Regions from separate parts of the Homo sapiens genome. Here all the other regions are linked to region 3. The links come from fine-mapping of genetic effects on plasma protein levels. A gene starts in region 3. Each other region holds a variant in brackets. All regions are shown on one strand. Distances are between the middles of the regions. Region 1 holds the start of CD300A (CD300a molecule). Region 2 overlaps CD300A (CD300a molecule). Region 3 holds the start of CD300C (CD300c molecule).

What was found. PIP is the posterior inclusion probability: the model's chance that the variant is causal. The UK Biobank Pharma Proteomics Project read protein levels with antibody pairs (Olink). The fine-mapping took linkage between variants from a reference panel, not from the people measured, so its PIPs are less certain.
Region 1: its variant is fine-mapped to the plasma level of the CD300C protein (UK Biobank, PIP above 0.99).
Region 2: its variant is fine-mapped to the plasma level of the CD300C protein (UK Biobank, PIP above 0.99).

What each region holds. Positions count from the first base shown.
Region 1 is chr17:74,463,454-74,469,290 of GRCh38, reverse strand. CD300A (CD300a molecule) reads right to left here and starts at 2,657. Exons shown (of 7, transcript NM_007261.4): 1 at 2,548-2,657. The coding sequence starts at 2,587. It overlaps LOC124904056 (a long non-coding RNA gene), which reads left to right and starts at 1,517. Exons shown (of 2, transcript XR_007065899.1): 1 at 1,517-1,741; 2 at 4,541-5,283. RefSeq lists an enhancer at 1,516-1,645 and silencers at 2,006-2,065, 2,106-2,165. The variant GACTTCTGCTTTTCT/T (reference allele first, on the strand shown) is at 2,672.
Region 2 is chr17:74,470,151-74,477,351 of GRCh38, reverse strand. CD300A (CD300a molecule) reads right to left here. Exons shown (of 7, transcript NM_007261.4): 2 at 3,478-3,816; 3 at 2,667-2,820. Among named protein-coding and RNA genes, the nearest start is that of CD300A, 7.1 kb to the right of the region's middle. The variant G/TG (reference allele first, on the strand shown) is at 5,115.
Region 3 is chr17:74,542,012-74,547,499 of GRCh38, reverse strand. CD300C (CD300c molecule) reads left to right here and starts at 1,385. Exons shown (of 4, transcript NM_006678.5): 1 at 1,385-1,778; 2 at 2,553-2,891; 3 at 4,513-4,639. The coding sequence starts at 1,718. It also overlaps a transcript of LOC107985074 not described here.

The DNA.
Region 1 (5,837 bases), 78 kb after region 3:
TCAACCTCCTAAAATTCTGGGATTACAGGTGTGAGCCACTGCACCCAGCTAGATTTTTTTTAATGTAGACCAAAAATGATGAGTGTTATTAAGAAATTCTTTCCCTTCCATCAAAAAAAAAGAAGCAAAACTCAGACAGTTTTACAAGCTAGTTCTCTAAAAACTTCAAGGAACAAATAATTTCAATTTTATGTAAACATTTGCAGAGAACACGGAAACAGGGAGATCTCCCTAATTCTTTCCATGAAGCCAGCATAATAAATCAAGACAAACATCTGACCAGATCTCCTAATGTAGTTCACCTCCTTCATAGCTGAAAGGATAATAATAATAATAATTTCTATAAATAATAAAAATGGTATTTTGTGGGGGCCGGAGGCCAAGGCTGGCAGATTGCCTGAGCTCAGGAGTTCGAGACCACCTTGGGCAACATGGTGAAACCCCGTCTCTACTAAAATACAAAAAAATTAGCCAGCAGTGGTGGTGGGTGCCTGTAAGCCCAGTTATTCAAGAGGCTGAGGCAGGAGAATCACTTGAACCCGGGAGGCGGAGGTTGCAGTGAGCTGAGATCAAGCCACTGCACTCCAGCCCTGGGTGATAGAGTGAGATTCTGTCTCCAAAAAAATAAATAAAAATAAAATAAAAAATGTTTTGTAGGGGCCAGGTGTGGTGGTTCATGCCTGTAATCCCTGCATTTTGGGAGGACAAGATGGGAGGATCCCTTGATCCCAGGAGGTGGAGGCCAGCCTGGGCAACATGGTAAGACCCTGTCCCTAAAAAAAATTAAGAATCCAGCTGGGTGTGGTGGCACACACCTGTAGTCTCAGCTACTGGGGAGGTTGAGGTGGGAGGATCACTTGAGCCCGGGAGGTGGAGGCTACAGTGAACCGTGATTGCACCACCGCACTCCAGTTTGGGTGACGGAGGGAGACCCTGTCTCAAAAAAATAAAAATGTTGGCCAGGCTTGGTGGCTCACGCCTGCAATCCCAGCACTTTGGGAGGCCAAGGTGAGTGGATCACCTGAGGTTGGGAGTTTGAGACCAGCCTGACCAACATGGAGAAAGCCCATCTCTACTAAAAATACAAAATTAACCAGGCATGGTGGTACATGCCTGTAATCTCAGCTACTCGGGAGGCTGAGGCAGGAGAATCACTTGAACCTGGGAGGCGTAGGTTGCAGTGAGCCAAGATCGCGCCACTGCACTCCAGCCTGGGCAACAAGAGCAAAACTCCATCTCAAAAAATAAATAAATAAATAAATAAATAAATAAATAAATAAAAGTAAAAATGCTTTGTGAATAGTCATTGGTGGATCCCTTCTTCCTAATAATGAGAAGCTCTGGTCCTTTTTCCCTGAGTCAGCAACAAGGCAGGGACAACCACTACCACTATGTCCGCTGGGCCTCACTCCGGCTGTACCAGCCAATGAGTCAATGGGAGAAAGAGAAACAGATATTAGACAGGAACTGAAACCTTCCCATGCACACCGACCCTATGAAACAGAAGAACACCCAAGAGAATCGCAGGAGCACCTGTTATGGGAGGATGACCCGTTTCCAAGTCAAGACACCAAAAGTAATAACCTTCCCACAGACAAGTAGTTAGCAAATATAATTGCAGAAAACCTCCGATCTGTAAGGAAAGCAACCACAAAGACGTACAATACCCTAGGACTAGGCCTGAGGAGTCTGCACAGGAGCTGTCTGAGGAGAGCGGTGGACGTGACTGAAGGCACAGCAGGTGACTCTGCGGGAGGAATCCCTGCGCTTGGACAGGGAAGACTCAACTCCACGCTTCTCCCTAAAGAAGATCTCAGCGCTTCTCTGCCCGATCTTTTCCCTCCTCGCCCTCCCCACCACCTTTTCTGTCCCCTCTGTCCCATATCCCCTTCTTGGAGAGGACTGACCCCTGGTTCTCAGGCCCATGCAGGGGCTAACCCCAGCCAAGGCTGCCTCGGGACTTCCCCCTGCTCAGGCCCCAGCCGCTGGGCTGCCCTGGTTAAATCTCCGCATTCCAGAGACTATCGATCTGCTCCCCACCCCGACCCTATCTCCCTCACCGCCCCACCCCCTCCTCCGTACCCTGCACCTAGTGAGGCCGGCATCTCCCCCACCCTCCCCACACCCCCCTCCTCCATACCCTGCACCCAGTGAGCCCGGCATCTCCCCCACCCTCACCACATGCCCCTCGCAGTCAGTGGCTGCCACTCTCCACCCACCCTGACACATCCTGCCTCTCGTCCCCCTTCCTGTAAGAATTCAACTGAAAACCTAAAAGGTCCCTTTTCTGCACCCACCCCTTATCACTTGCCCCGCTGTGGTTCAGCCAAGGTACGTGGGTGCAGAGCCGGGAGAGGCCCTGGCTCCTTCCTCTCCCAGGGGTGTGGACCTTCATCTGTCCATCTTATGTGGTAGACAGAGCGCACCGCATTCTGCGTTCTGCACGGAGTCCAGACTCGGGGCGTCTCGTGTGATACCTGCCCTGCGGCCCTGCCCCTCGCACCCTCCCTCCCTGCCGCAGACTTTCCCGGGAAGGGAAACTCTCACCTGGGACCCAGAGAAGCAACAGAGCCCAAGGCAGCCACATGGTCCCTTCCCCAGCACAGGCGGCACTTGCAGCAGCTCCAGGCCCTACCTGGACCCGAGGGGAAAGTCACGCCTCCAAGGCCCC[GACTTCTGCTTTTCT/T]TGGTGCCGCGCTGCTTCCTTGTTCAGCTTCTTTTGGTTCTATTCCTGGAGCCGGTCAGAAAATGCAGGAAGCTGGTGAGCCCCGACTAAGACTCCCTAGAAACGGCACGTCCTCCTTAACGCTGGTTGAGGCTGCAGGTTCTTCGGCTATTTCTAGTGATGAGACCTCTCCCTGTAGTGACTCCGTAGCTTGCAGGACTGATCCCCGACTCTCACTTCCCCGGGTCTCCTCCTAGTGGAAGGCCCAATAACTCCTCCCTCCTTTCCTTGTGGTCAAGGTGGGCAACCCTGGGGGTGGGACCCGCTGAGCTGGCTCCTCTCACCCTCGGTGGTGCCCACGAGGAGGCTGCCAGGGGGAACTCCCCTTTCCTGAGTCCCTTCCCTGAGTCCCTTGGAGGTCCAGGCCTGGGCTTCGGGGCTGAGGGAAGGGGAGTTGTCATCGTGACTCCAGAGTCCCTGAATGGTTCCTAGTCTTGGAAATGTGTCCTCAACTTGACACAGAGGTCCTCCGGCCATGCCTTCCTTTCTATATAGCCCCATTGGAGCCAACTCGGGGCTGGGCACAGAGCAGGGACTCAGCGAGCCTGCAAGGACCCCTTTCCTGATCCACACAGAGTGCAGACTCTAAACACACACACGCTCACACTCACATACACACTCACACCCACACACACTCACCCACACACATTCACAAACACACACTCACATACACACACTCACACTCACCCACACACATTCACAAACACACACTCACATACACACTCACACAAACACACTCACCCACACACATTCACAAACACACTCACATACACACTCACACAAACACTCACCCACACACATTCACAAACACACACAAACACACTCAGCCACACACATTCACAAACACACAAACACACCCACACATTCACAAACACACTCGCATACACACAAACACACATTCACACACCCACACACATTCACAAACACACACTCACATACACACTCACATGCACACATATTCACACACACCCACACATTCACACTCACACATACACACAAACACATTCACAAACAAACACGTTCATGCACATACACTCACATATACACACTCACACACACATTCACAAACACTTTCACAAACACATACACACACGTACACACAAACACATACACACATTCACAAACACGTTCATGCACATACACACACACACACAAACATTCACACACCCACACACAAACACACACAAACACACTCACACTCTCACATACACACACACTCACCCAAACACACTCACATACACACACATTCACACACACCCACACACATACACTCACACAAACACATTCACACACCCACACACATTCACAAACACACACATACGCACACATTCACAAACACACGTTCATGCACACACACATATACACACACACAAACACACAGGCACTCTCACCCACACACATTCACAAACTCACATTCACACACAAACACAAATTCACACACACTGATACAAACACACATACACATTCACACATTGAAACACTCAAATTCACACAACGCACTTACATATACAACTGAAATACACTCACACATTCACACACAAACTCACACACTGACACATTCACACACAGTGACATACACTCACACACACACAGTCTCACACACGTGCCTTGAGTAGGTGCCCCAGCTTGCACAGAATGACCAGGTGGGCACAGGAAATGCCACTCCTAATGTGTAATGCGTCACCTGGGAGCTTGCAGTCCCCAAGCTCAGAGTGTCCACCCACATGGAGCCCTGTGCCAGCTATGGGATCCCAAGAATATCCTTCCCTCTGGCCCTTTTTGGAATTTGTCACTTTCCTCTTCCTTCTGAACACAGGGGCGCCTTGCCCACGAAGGTGTCAGGAAGCCAAGGAGACCTATGGGCTCTGCTGCTGGAAGATTCAATGACAAAGCCTGGTGGACATTGTGGAAATTTTCATGATGATGCAGTCATAGATTAACTAAACCTCATTAAGATCCAAGACACTTCGGGCCGGGCGCGGTGGCTCACTCCTGTAATCCCAGCACTTTGGGAGGCCGAGGCAGGCGGATCACGAGGTCAGGAGTTCGAGACCAGCCGGGCCAACGTGGCAAAACCCTGTCTCTACTAAAAATAAAAAAAATGTGGCGGGCACCTGCAATCCCAGCTACTCGGGAGGCTGAGGCAGGAGAATCGCTTGAACTCGAGAGGCAAAGGTTGCGGTGAGCCAAGATCGTGCCATTGCACCCCAGCCTGGGTGACAAGAGCAAGACTCCGTCTCAAAAAAAAAAAGATCCAAGACACTTTGGATCATGACACTGTTGAGCTGAACATAAAAATGCAGGAGATGTGTCATATTCGGTGGCTTATGTGGCCTGATCATTGCAAAGTTTCTCAAAAATTATTTTTTGATTCAACCATGACCAAAAAGGCGCTGCTGCAATCTTGAACGTCCAGGCCAGACAGAGAAGCAGAAGGCTAAGTTCTGGCGTGGCTTGTCCACTTACCACCGAATGAACTTGAGCAAAGCCTGTGGCTTCTGTAAAACGTCAATAATGACAGCTCCTCTGTGGGAATAAATATTATTATGATTATACAAATACTGAAATGTCAGTGTTCCTTAACATCCTCAGGTCAGTTTTTTCTGAGGGAATATATCTCTACTTTTGATGAAAGGTAATAGGAAAATTGGATTCCACAGGAAGTGCGCTTTACACTTTAATCTATGGGATGCAATTCTCCTTAGGCACATAGAGAAACACCTGACTTACTGCAAAGGAGAAGGGATCAGGGGACTTAGACCCTGCCACGCCCATCCTGCTCACCCCATCCTGTCCACAAACCCAAAGGAAGAAACAAAATGGTGCAAAATAACCACAAAACATGAGAGTTTTTTGCCGGAAGTTGCACATTCCGGCTGTGTCCCGATAACCATCAGGTGACATGACTCAGGGGGAGGAGGAGATGAGGCCACAGGGCTGAGGCCCATTTCCCAGGGGTGAGGGTGAGAAGTGGTCCCACAGCAGCCACAAAACTTCTGATCAGCTCTGGAGTCTCTTCCTGGTGTGGACACACGTGCTCAGAGGCCAATGAGGGGTGCTTTCTGGGAAGACCTGCAGCAGCAGCATTGAGTCCTGTGAACCACCCAGTCCTC
Region 2 (7,201 bases), 71 kb after region 3:
TTGAGACAGGATCTGGCTCTGTTACCCAGGCTGGAGTGCAGTGGTGATCATGGCTCACTGCAGCCTTGAACCCCTGGGCTCAAGTGATCCTCCTGCCTCAGCCTCCAGCTACAGGCACAGGCCACCACGGCTAATTTTTAAATTTTTCGTAGAGACTCAATCTTGCTATATTGCCCAGGATGGTCTCAGACTCCTGAGCTCAAGCCACCCTCCTGCCTCAGCCTCCCAAAATGCTGGGATGACAGGCATGAGCCAATATACCTGGTCTCCTTCTCTAACTTTTTAAGTAGATAGATAAGGTCAATTAAAAAAAATAGACAGTATAAAGCCCCCTTTCTACACACCCCCCATTTACACATTCCCCAATTTCCCCACATACACACACGTGCTGTTCTTAAGAACCTTCCAGAGTTTCTTTATGTGTATACAAGCAAATACGAATGTACGGGATCTCCTTTCTCTTTCACACAAAGGAGGCCTCGTCTAACACTATTCTGGTTTTACTTAGCAATACATCTTAGAGGTCTTTCCACGTCAGTACATAAAGAAGTCCCTCACTCTTTCCTATAGCTGCAGGGTATTCCAACACATGGATAGACTGTGATTTATTTAAATGTTCCCACTGAATGGGCATTTCCCCAGTCCTTTGCAATGGTAAACGTTGCTTATAAATCGCCTTGCAGCTCCACCTTTTCACACCTGACCACGCAGCAGCAGATTGACCAGGAGGCTGATGCAGCCCAGCTTCAGGTCCCTCCATTGCTTGGGCCCTTTCCTTCATGCCTACGTTTGCATTCATAATTTTCTCATCTTTTTCTTAGATTACCCACCCACCAACCCACCCCGCAAACTGCACAACCTTCAGGCCCCACAGAACTCAGCGCTGCCACCTATGTGTATCTACAGGCTAAACTTCTGGAAGTGGCATGTTCAAGCCTGAATTTTGCCTTGTCTTATATGTTGGCAGAAGCCTGTGGAGGGGTTTATGGATGTTGTCCAGTAAAGAATCTGGCTGGCCTTTGTCCCTAGCTCTTAGGAGGGAGGCTCTAAATCCTTGGAATGTCCCAAAAATTAGGAGTGTCTTTGTTGTTCATGAATCACACCTGGACTTTGGTAAGAGATGAGACAATAGGATGGGGCTGGTCACCAGAAAGACCAACTACGTAATTAGAGATTTGGAGCCCTGAGCCAGCCCAACCTCCCAAAGAGGGACTGGAGGTGGAGACAGTTCAATCACATCATGCCTATGTAATGAAACCCCAATAAAAACTCTGGACACCAAAGCTTGGAGGAGCTTCCTGGTTGATAAATATATTGAGGTGCCGCAGGGAGGGTGCAGGTGATGCTCCCTGATTCCACCTGGAGAGGGCACAGAAACTGTTTGGGAATCCTCCCAAGCCTTGTCCTATGTGTCTCTGCATTGGCTGGTCCTAATCTTTATCCTTTATCCTTATGATAAAACTGTAATTGTAAGTATAATGCTTTCCAGAGTTCTGAGTCTAACAAATTATTGAACCTGGGGGGGTCCTGGGAACCCCCAAATTTGCATCCAGTTGGTCAGAAGTGTGGTGGCCTGGGGATCCCCAAAGTTCGACTGGCATCTAAATCAGGGCGGTCTTGTGGGATCTGATTTAGATGTGGAAGCTCTTCACCTGTGGGGTCTGCACTAACTCTGGGTGGATAGTGCCAGGATGGAATTGTGGGGTTTTGTGCTAGAATAGGGAGTCCGTGAATCCCAGAAAAGGTTTGTGACTGCATGTGTTTTTCTGGGGAGAGTGTCCATAGATGTCAGATTCTATGTGGGGTTGGTGAACCCGAAAAAGGTTAAGAACCACTATTTAGAGAGGAGAACTCAAGGCTCTGGAGTCACATAAACCAGAATTGGAAGCTTAGCCTTAGCCTCTTGTAGCTACTTGACTGGGCAAATTGCTTCACCTCGCTGAGTCTCAGTTTACTCATCTGTAAAATGGGGATTGATGTGGGTTGGCTGGGTCCCCACCCAAATCTCATCTTGAATTGTAGCTCCCATATAATTCCCACGTGTTGTGGGAGGGACCCAGTGGGAGATAACTGAATCATGGGGGTGGTTTGCTCCATACTGTTCTTGTGGTAGTGAATAAGTCTCACGAGGTCTGATGGCTTTATAAGAGGAAACCCCTTTTGCTTGGTTCTCATTCTCTGTCTTGCCTGCTGCCATGTAAGACATGCCTTTTGCCTTCTGCCTTGATTGTGAGGCCTCCTCAGCCATGTGGAACTGTGAGTACATTAAAACCTCTTTCTCATTATAATTTATCCAGTCTCGGGTATGTCTTTATCAACGGTGCGAAAACAGACTAATACACGGAATGACAACAGTACAGGGCTGCAGTGAAAGGCAAGTGAGAATACTCATGTGAAGCATCTAACACGGGCCTCGTAGGATGTTACCAGCTGTCAGTAACTATCACTTTCCTTCCATCTGCCCCCCAACTTCCCCCCTACCTGAGCCCCCTTCCAAAGCCAAGGGCAGGTCCAAGCCGGGGTGTTCAGACTATGGCTTCCAACCTGGGCCTGGGGCAAAGGGAGCGATGCACACCTCCAGCTGGCCCACATGGCCAAGGTCCCCGCCCTGGGCTCCTCCTCTTAGCACAGGGCCCCCTCCATGTCTCAGGGGCTAGGGTGCTTACTGTGAGTTCACCACCTCCTCAGTTTCCTCCTGGATGCTGGCACTGTGGGTGGCACCCACTGCAAACAGGGTAGTGGATGATACAGGTGGAAATGCAGTTGTGATTGTTGAGGTCTTGGCCGCAGTGATACTTGCAGGTGTCATTGACGTTGATGCTGGTGGCAAAACCACAAGTCAGACCCAGGGAGCTGTCCTCTGGCTCTCCCACCACTCAGGATGCCTTTTTGGTTTGATTTCACACAAACTGCCCACTAAGGAAGGGGGCAGGATGCAGGACCCTGGGGCTAGAGTCTCTCCAGGACCCTCCTGGGCCAACTGGGCATTTCTGAACAGGACACGGGTGCCACTCCCAGTGGTCCTGATTTTCCATCCTGCTGATGAGGGTCCAGGTGCTCCTGCGAAACTCCATGCTGCAGAGGAGTCTGTCTACACTGCAAATCTGACCTGTCATGTGGTAAGGCTCCCCCTGAGGACAGCAGCTTCCCATCTGGCCCCCCAGCCTCTCTGTTCAGCCCCACCCCTCCCCCACTCAGCTGCACTTCCGTTGGGGCTGAGCCACAGGTGCGCTCCTGGCTCCTTCACAGGCAACGCTCTCTCAGCCTCCCTGTCACTGGACCCTTCCCTTCTTCAATACTGGGCAGACATGTCAGCTGCTCCAGGAGAGACCCCCTGACTGTGTTCCCCTGGCCCCCACCTCTCTCTCTCTTACGCACACACACACACACACTGTCTGCTTCACGTCTCTGATCTGATTCCTGCCCCAACAATTCCAACCTGAGCCTATTTAGGCGCTGAGGGAAGGAGGGGCTCACCCGGGAACACGGACACCTCAACCTCGACAACGGGATCATGAAAGTCTCGGAGCCATGGTGTATCCACCCCACACCAGTAGGTGCCTGCATCCTCCTCTGTGAGATTCTCCAGGGTCACTGTGAAGCTGAGGTTTGCAGGACTGTCCCTGATGGACACTCGGCCGTTCCTTTTTCCTGCTGACCCTTTGGTCTCCACAATCTTGTCACATAGGAAAATCTGTGGTGGTCTGCACCAGTATTTGTTGAGGGTCCTGTGTTCCTTCTCATAGGGACACTGCACACTCAGGGATCCCCCCACGGGGCCCGCCACGGTCCTGCATTTGCTCAGAGCAAAACATCCTGGAAAACACAAGCCAGAGTCCCAGCTCCTCCTCAGATGAGCCTGGTCAGGGGTGCCCTGGGGTCAGGGCCGCATGGACCCTGGGGGTGTGGAGGAGGCAGCGGCAGGCAGAGAGGCCTTGTCCACCCAGGAGCGGGGACTGAGGATGAGAGGCTACCTCCGCACACAGGTGGGAATGGGGCAGAGGCTTTCCATGGAGACCGGAAGAGCTCAGGCTGGGTGCCCTGGAGTCACCTCCTCCAAAGATTCCCCGACTCCACATCAGCACCCCCAGCCCTCAGCCCCTGACTCCTTCACCTCATATCAGCCCCATCAGCCAGATCACAGCTTGAGTATTCTCTTTTCTGCTCTACCACCCTCAAGATTTTGCTCATAGTAGCCCCTTTCTCCAGCCCCCTGCCTCCTTTCCCTTACCCTTCCCACCCCTCTCACCCACCAGGGGCCTCCTGCTTCCAAACCTGCCAGGAGCATGAGAACTCACCCCTAAGCACCTGCACTCCCGGGAGGGCCACCCCAGCCCTGGGCAACCCTGCAAGAGGAAGACCGGCCCACACACTGATCTGGTCCCACCAAGGGGCAAACCCGGGCAGTAATAGGGTTGTCAAGCCATTTTGACAAGAATACTGGCTGGGTACAGTGGGTTATGCCTGTAATCCCAGCACTTTGGGAGGCTAAGGTGGGTGGATCACTTGAGGCCAGGAGTTCGAGACTAGCCTGGCCGACATGGTGAAACCCTGTCTCTACTAAAAATACAAAAATTAGCTGGGCGTGGTGGCATGCGCCTGTAATTGCAGCTACTGGGGAGGCTGAGGCACAAGAATCGCTTCAACCCTGGAGGCGGAGGTTATGTTGAGCTGAGATGGCACCACTGCACTCCAGCCTGAGTGACAGGGTGAGACTCTGTCTCAAAAAAAAAAAAAAAGAGTCACAAACGCAGAAGGCTTGCTGACGAAAACTTTCATCCTGTGTCTTACCTTAGTTTGCCCAGCTCTCCTAGACTTAAATCTCGGAAATAAATGAACTTCCTTGAAAATTATGTCTGACATTTTCCCAAATAATTATCAGATGCAAAGCAAGGAGAGTAAGGTGATGGCTCGAAGCTAGTGTTGGCTGCCAAGCAGAGGACACATGGCCCCTGCCCCAGGCAGATGGGCACAGGCCTGCTGGGCAGTTGTGTGTGCAGTGTCTCAATGCCCTTGTAATTCTGTGATTAGGCCCCATATTGTTCAAGGATGGTGGGGATGGGGGCTTGCTCTTCTTTCCTTGGGTTAGAACTCTTTGATTTTTTTTTTTTTTT[G/TG]AGATGGAGTCTTGCTCTGTTGCCCAGGCTGGAGTGCAGTGGCGGGATCTCGGCTCATTGCAACCTCTGCCTCCCGGGTTCAAGCGATTCTCCTGCCTCAGCCTACCGAGTAGCTAGGATTACAGGCGTCCACCACACCCGGATAATTTTTGTGTTTTTAGTAGAGACAGGGTTTCACCATGTTGGCCTGGCTGGTCTCGAACTCCTGACCTCAGGTGATCCACCTGCCTCGGCCTCCCAAAGTGCTGGGATTACAGGCATGAGCTACTGCGCCTGGCCAGAACTCTTTAATTTTACTTACTGTTTCAGATGCTAAATCTCCTCACACATGAGACTTTGGTAGGGGTCTCCTTCTTATACCTTCAACGTCTACAGGTGCCTTGCACCTGTAGGCCCTCTACAAAAACTTCAGTGCAAGCTTCTCCTGGACCCCACTAGCTCCACACCCAGCCCACGGCTGCCCAAAGATAAGCTCCTCTGTGCCTCTCCCAGAGTCCCACCCAAACCTCTCCACGCCTGGATGTACACATCCCCCTGCAGAGAAGGCCTTTCTAAGCTTGTCACAGGTGTGATGCTTCCTGAGGCTCTCAGCAGCAATTGCCAGGACAAAGCAGAAAGATCCTCAGAACCATCTGCGTTTACATCTCTACCCTATTACGTATCAGCTGTGTGTTCTGGGGCAAGTTAGTTAACCTCTCTGAGCTTCAGACACCTTGTCTATAGAGTGGTGACAATTGTCCCTGACTCATATGGCCTTTGAGGGTGTTAAATGAGATCACAGGTATAAAATGCCTGGTAAATAACATTAGGTTGAATCACATGAAATGGCTGATATTAAACTTTTTGACCAAGACAACAGGGTTTCACATGACTCCAGCTAATAAAAATAGATAACCTCTGGGCTGACTAAATAAGACATGACAAGAGAAAAGGACCATAGATGAAGAAAGAATGAAGAGTCAAGATATTTTGCAGAAATTCTCTACATAAAATTCATAAACTTAGATGAAAGTTATTTTCTAGAAAAACACAAATCACTAAAATTGACACATATTAAGTACTTAATAAGTAAATGGAGCCTGGGCAACATAGTGAGATTCCATCTCTACAAAAAAATACAAAAATTAGCCAGGTGTGCTGGTGCACACGTGTGGTCCCAGCTACTCAGGAGGCTGAGGTGGGAGGATCATTTTAGCCCAGGAGGTTGTGGCTGCAGTGAGCTATGATCGCATCACTGCACTTCAGCCTGGGTGACAGAGTGAGACCCTGACTCAAATAAATAAATAGGCCAGGTGCAGTGGCTCATGCCTGTAATCCTAGCACTTTGGGAGGCCAAAGTGGGAGGATTGCTTGAGCCTTAGGCATTTGAGGCCAGCCTGGGCAATGTGGTGAGACCCCCATCTCTACCAAAAACACAAAAAATTAGCCAGGCATGGTGGCACGTGCCTGTATTCCCAGCTACTCAGGAGGCTGAGGCGGGAGGATCACTTGAGTCCAGGAGGTGGAGGTTGCAGTGAGCTGTGATCACACCACTGCACTCCAGCCTGGGCGACAGAGTGAGACTCTATCTCAAAAAAAATAAATAAAAACTGTCAGTTCCCAGCCCTCCTTCACCCAAGACACTGTTCCTGCTCCCTGTCCTGACCCGATTCCCTGCCTCTCCTGGGCTGCGAATCGTCATCTTTCTTTGTCCATGTTTTGGCTTCTCTCCTGACCTCAGTGACCCCACCACCTCTGCCCACTGCACCCAATCCTGTCTCTCGTCCTACCTCCAGTGTCTGACTTCCCTTCGGATTTAGTTTCTTTCTCCCTCTCTCTCTCTCCCTCTAGCTCTCTCTCTTTCTCTCTCTCCTGATTAACTTCTCTTCTCTGAAATCTTGGATAAAAAACTGTCACCCAATCATCTCCCCAAAGCTCTGTTCCACCTGTGAGGGTGTCATTATAATTTAGAGATTGCGAAGTGTCAGAAAACCCTCCATTTACTTCCCCACTTACCTGGAACGATCACATGGATCCCCAGTGCTCCCAGGCTTGTGTTTCTGCGCTTTCTCTCTTCCAACCTGAATCACCACCCCAAACCCCTCTAA
Region 3 (5,488 bases):
CTGGATCCAGGAGGCTGGAGACACCTACCAGGTGCTGGGGCCTGCCAGGACCTGTGTGCAGAGGCCAGGTCAGGTGGGTGCCATCCTGTGACAGCAGGAGCCATTGGGAGTTCAGCAGCGCCTCCCCAGGGCCATGTGTGTGTGTCAGGGATCACATTGCTGATTCTGTGGAGAATGAAAGGGGTGGGTATGAGCAGAAGGGGAGACCAGGTCAGCCCATGAAAGAGCCGGGATACTTCAAAGCCAGGCCCAGGCCAGACCTGAGCACTGGGCTAATTGGAGGCCCTGGGATTGCACTGGGCTAGAGATAGTCCCATGATGTGAGTCTGGGGGCATCAACACCAATGACCCCAGTGCATGCTGTGTCCCTGAGAGTGTAAATGGAGGGAGGACAGGGCAGGTCGAGGGTGCAGAGACCCCTTCATGGTGCCAGGTTTGCCCAGACTCCCATCACTCTCCACTCAACCTCATGGCTGTGTGCACATACTGGTGCTATTGACTCTGATAGGAAGAAAGGAACAGAAATCTGTAGGAGGGTTGGGAGAGTCAAGGAATATGCTTAAGGCATGAGAAGGTGGAGAAGGGGTGATGCCCTCCAGGACAGACAGGAGGTAAATCCTGTGTCTGACTAGCCTCCTTGCCCTTTCCAGGGTAAAGACACCCTGAGCCCATCACGTCAGGAGAACCAGCCATGCCGAGTGTGGATAGACCTGGGTTCCCGCCTCCTGGGAAGGCCTGTCTGCCATGTCTGCTCCCTGCGGAGGCCCCTGGCCATCACAGTGGACCCAGGATAGACACCAGCAGCCGCTGCTCATGACAAACTGTCCTCTCAGTCACCAAACACCCCTCCGTGTGCCCTGGGGTGTGTGCTGGCTCAGTCGCAGCCTCACATCCTCCACAAAGTCCCACTTCAGCATCTTCACATGTCTGAACTCTCTCTCTATTCTCAGTTCTCTGCCCTGATTCCCACTGGGGCATGGATTTTGGCAAGAAGACAAGATGGAAAAGGAGGGTCTCGGGTGGGTGATGCCGCTGTGTGTGTAGGTCTGGGGGCAGGGGCACAAGAGGAAAACTCCCCAAGCCTGTGGGATTTTAACCTGGTTGGGGACTCAGCACCAAAAAGGGACATGCAGATGGTGTCTGGGTTCATAGCGCTAACTTCTGAGGCCAGAAGAAGAGCTGGGGGTCTTAGGGGCAGAGGTCTCTGCGGGGACCTAGCTGAAGATTAAGGGACACAACCTCTCTCTGGTCACCTCCAAGGCTAAAGAAGGTGGCAGATTTAGCCTCCAACCACAAGATTGTCCATCCTGACCAGGAAGTGACATGTCACAGAGGGTGGAGCAGCCCATGTGGTAGGAAATGGCCCAGCTTGGCTCTGCCTTCTGCAGTGTGAGTAACACACTGAAGCCAGAAGCTGTGGGCTGTGGGGAAGTGGCTGCATCGCCACCCAAGGGACCCTGGACTTTGCCAGACGTCAGGGTTGAGAGGAGCCACTAGCACCATCCCAGAGCTGTCAGCACCGGCCTCAGCCCAGGCGGCTCTCTCCCTGAGCTTCCTGTACCCTGACCCTCTCCAGCCTCAGACCTGAGACAGGGCTGGACAAGGAAGCAGAGAGCAGAAGAAAAGCAGAAGCGAAGCTCAGATCTGCTGGGAGGAGATTACATTTTGTCCCCTCCTGGGGTCTTGCACAGTGGCAGGTGACATTCGTGTTACAGGAATGACTGCCAGGGCCTGGGCCTCGTGGCGGTCTTCAGCTCTGCTCCTCCTGCTTGTCCCAGGTGAGTGGGCCGACCCTGGACTTGGGGAGCTCTGTCCTGAGTGGGAGAGGGCAGGGAGGGGTGCAGGCGCTGGAGTAGCGGTCATAGAGGGGAGTGGGGCAGGGAGAGGGGAGGAGGGCAAAGGAGCACCCAGGAGCGGTCAGCAGCTGCCTCACCAGGGGACAGCAGGCGGCAGGGCACAGCACGGGGGAGGCCTATTCCTCTGTGCCCGAGACAGGAAGCCCTGGTGGGAGGTGATGCTGTGACTGTCATTGCCAAAGTTATCCAATCACAAATTTTATCTGGGACGATCACACACACAGTCACACTCACACGCACACACGGTCACACTCACACAGTCTCACACACATGCACACACAGTCACACTCACACAGTCTCACACACACATGCACACAGTCACACATGCACACACAGTCACACTCACATGCACACACAGTCACACATGCACACACAGTCACACACAGTCACACTCACACAGACAGTCACACTCACACAGTCACACACACAGAGTCACACTCACATGCACACACAGGCCCGCACACACCCAGTGTTTCCCTAGCCTTGCCTTTCCAGTCTCCATGGAAACTTCCCATGCCCTTCCCACCTCTGCACAGAGGGAGCCTCCCACCCTCAGTCCCTGTTCCTGGGTGGACAAAGGCTGCCTGCCTGCCATTGCCTTCTCCACACGCCCAGGGTCCATGAGGGGCTGACACTGCGGCACCCCTGACCAGGCCCCTCTGGTAAGGAGACAGGATTTTGGCTTGTATTTTTCAGGCTATTTTCCTCTGAGCCACCCCATGACCGTGGCGGGCCCCGTGGGGGGATCCCTGAGTGTGCAGTGTCGCTATGAGAAGGAACACAGGACCCTCAACAAATTCTGGTGCAGACCACCACAGATTCTCCGATGTGACAAGATTGTGGAGACCAAAGGGTCAGCAGGGAAAAGGAATGGCCGAGTGTCCATCAGGGACAGTCCTGCAAACCTCAGCTTCACAGTGACCCTGGAGAATCTCACAGAGGAGGACGCAGGCACCTACTGGTGTGGGGTGGATACACCGTGGCTCCGAGACTTTCATGATCCCATTGTCGAGGTTGAGGTGTCCGTGTTCCCGGGTGAGCCCCTCCTTTTCTCAGCACCAGGCCTGCCTGAGCCTAGGGCTGGTCATTCTGTCCCTGAAGAAAGAAGTGGAACAGGAGGGTGTGAGCCTGGGGGTTGGTGAGTCAGGACACTGTGTGCCGCTGTGTGTGGATGAGTGTGAGTGCGTCTTTGTGTATGCGTGCCTGCATAGGAGTTGTGGTGTGGTTTGTGTGTGTGTGCACCTGCATGTGTGTGTTGGGAGGGTGGGCGCCCACAAAAGCACCCTGGCCCTGTGGCTGGAGACCCCCCGCTGTGGGCCCTCCCTCACGGCCTCAGGCCTGAAACTTTCCTGGGTGGGGTCTGTGAGGCCACCCCTGACTCTGGGGTCCTTGCTACCTCCCTGTATTGACAAGGGCCGGATCCATACTGAAGGGTGCCCACTGTCCCGCCTGGGTCTAACTCGCTCTTCCCCACGGGGAATTGGACCCCCCCATCATTGGCTCCTCTCACTCAAGGCTGCCCCTGCCCTGGGGCCTGCATGGATGCCGCCCTGTCTGGAGGGTCCTGAGGCCGCAGCCTCACAGCCCTGTCCTGGGAGCTCCTGCAGCAGCCACTGGAGGACACAGGAAGGAGCCCCAGAGCCCTGGGTGGGGTTCTCATGCTCCTGGGAACCACATCCTGCCCCTGAGGCTGACCTGTGTGTCCCCCTTATTCTCTGGCACCTTTTACCACAGGAGGGAACCCCAGAAATTGCCCCCTCAGGCAAAGGGACCTGTGGATGGAAATGAGCTGAGACTGGCACGGACCTGAGGGCCCTTTCCCGTGCCGAAGATCATTCTTCCCTCAAAGGCCCCCTCCTGTCTCACAAGACACAAACCCAGTGGCCTCAGTGTGGTTGCTTTTCCATCGTTTTCTTCTGACAATGTCCCAGGTTCCTCGGAGCATCTTCTTGTTCTCCATTTCCCCGGGGGCGACGTGTCCCTCCTGCGCCCTTTGTGCCTTCCTATCTAGGAGTGAGGAGCTAAGATCCCACCTGAGGGCGCCAGGGAGAGGAGGAAAGGGCCCTTATCCAGCTGTATTCACCACGGGCCGCCGCCCAGGCTTCACCGGGCATCCCCTCTCTAGATCTTTCTTCCTGGGCATTCCCTCCTGCTGAGAGGATGGTCCAATGGCCTTGTGGGGCCGCAGCATGGCTGCCATTTGGGGCTGAGTGGACTCGGGTCCCATCGTTCAGGGAGGACCCCACTGACTTCCTGTCCTCACTTCCAGCCTCTCTCCAGCCACTGCTGTGCCCAGGGCCCTGGCTTCGCAGTCACTCTGGGTCACCCTTCGCAGAGTAAACATCACCCCATTCCCCCAGGTCACCCTGTCCCTCCCTGGCTGGGGTGAAACCTGGAGACCCGTACCTTTGCCACAGGTGAGCAGGGCAGCTCTCACATCTGAAATGGTGTCCTGGCTCTGCAGTACCTAGGGATGGGACAAGGAGAGGCCCAGGACCCTGGTCAGGCCTGGGTGTGGCCGTGGGGCATGATGGATGCAGGGCATCTGTCCAGCACATCATTGGTGACCTTGTCTGTGAAAATTGGAGCAGAACAGGTGAGAGTAAGTGGGAGACCCATGTGATGTCATCAAGGTTGACCTGTGTTTCACCCACAGCCGGGACGACCACAGCCTCCAGCCCCCAGAGCTCCATGGGCACCTCAGGTCCTCCCACGAAGCTGCCCGTGCACACCTGGCCCAGCGTGACCAGAAAGGACAGCCCCGAACCCAGCCCACACCCTGGGTAAGGTGCCTGCGCATAGGACTGGGCCACGCTGGCGGCCTCCCCACTGCGTGTGATGTTTAGGGGACTCGGATGTCCCTTCTTCCAGTCCCTTCTTTGTTCGCACCTCCCACACCAAACGTGAAGGTTCTATTAAGTGTCAGGCGCTCCTTTTGGGATTGGGTCACAGCAGGGAACCACACAGCCACTGTCCTGCCCTGGTGGAAGTTGAGTTCTACTGCGTGGATTCACGCATTGAGCAAGTCAGCACAGAGGCTGATGTACAAATACAGCAAAGGGTAATGAATGCTGGGATGAGATGTTTGACTCTTGGGTTTGGGGAGAGCGTGTGCAGGTGTTGGAGTTGCTATTTCACTGACGATGATCAGAAGAGGGTTTGAGAATTAGAGGACATGAGCACAGAGACCTCAAGGGTTGGGGGCTGGGCACTCTGGGGTCTGGAGGAAGAAGGGTCCAGGTGGAGGGAGGAGTGAGGCAAATGTCCTGCGAGGAGCCTTGGGACCTGGCCAGGCCAGGGAAGGGGGCAGATGCTCTGGGGTCCGGTGGCCCTGGTCCTCTCCCCTGCCTCTCTCGCAGCCCTGGCCAGAGTTTCATCCTGTTTGATAAGCCCAGTCCTCTGAGGAGCTGAGAGCTGAGCTGTCCATTCATTAATTCCTTCAACAACCACTGAAGTTGTAGGGCAGATTATTGGAGACTCCGGGTAGGCAGCAGGTACTCACTGTGAATGAAACAAATGGTCCCTGCCCTCCTGGAAACGCTGTGTACAGGAGAGTTGACACCAAACAAATAACCCTTTGTGAATTCCGGGACCCCAGCTGGGTAACCCTCCATGGGGAGCACAGAGGTAGA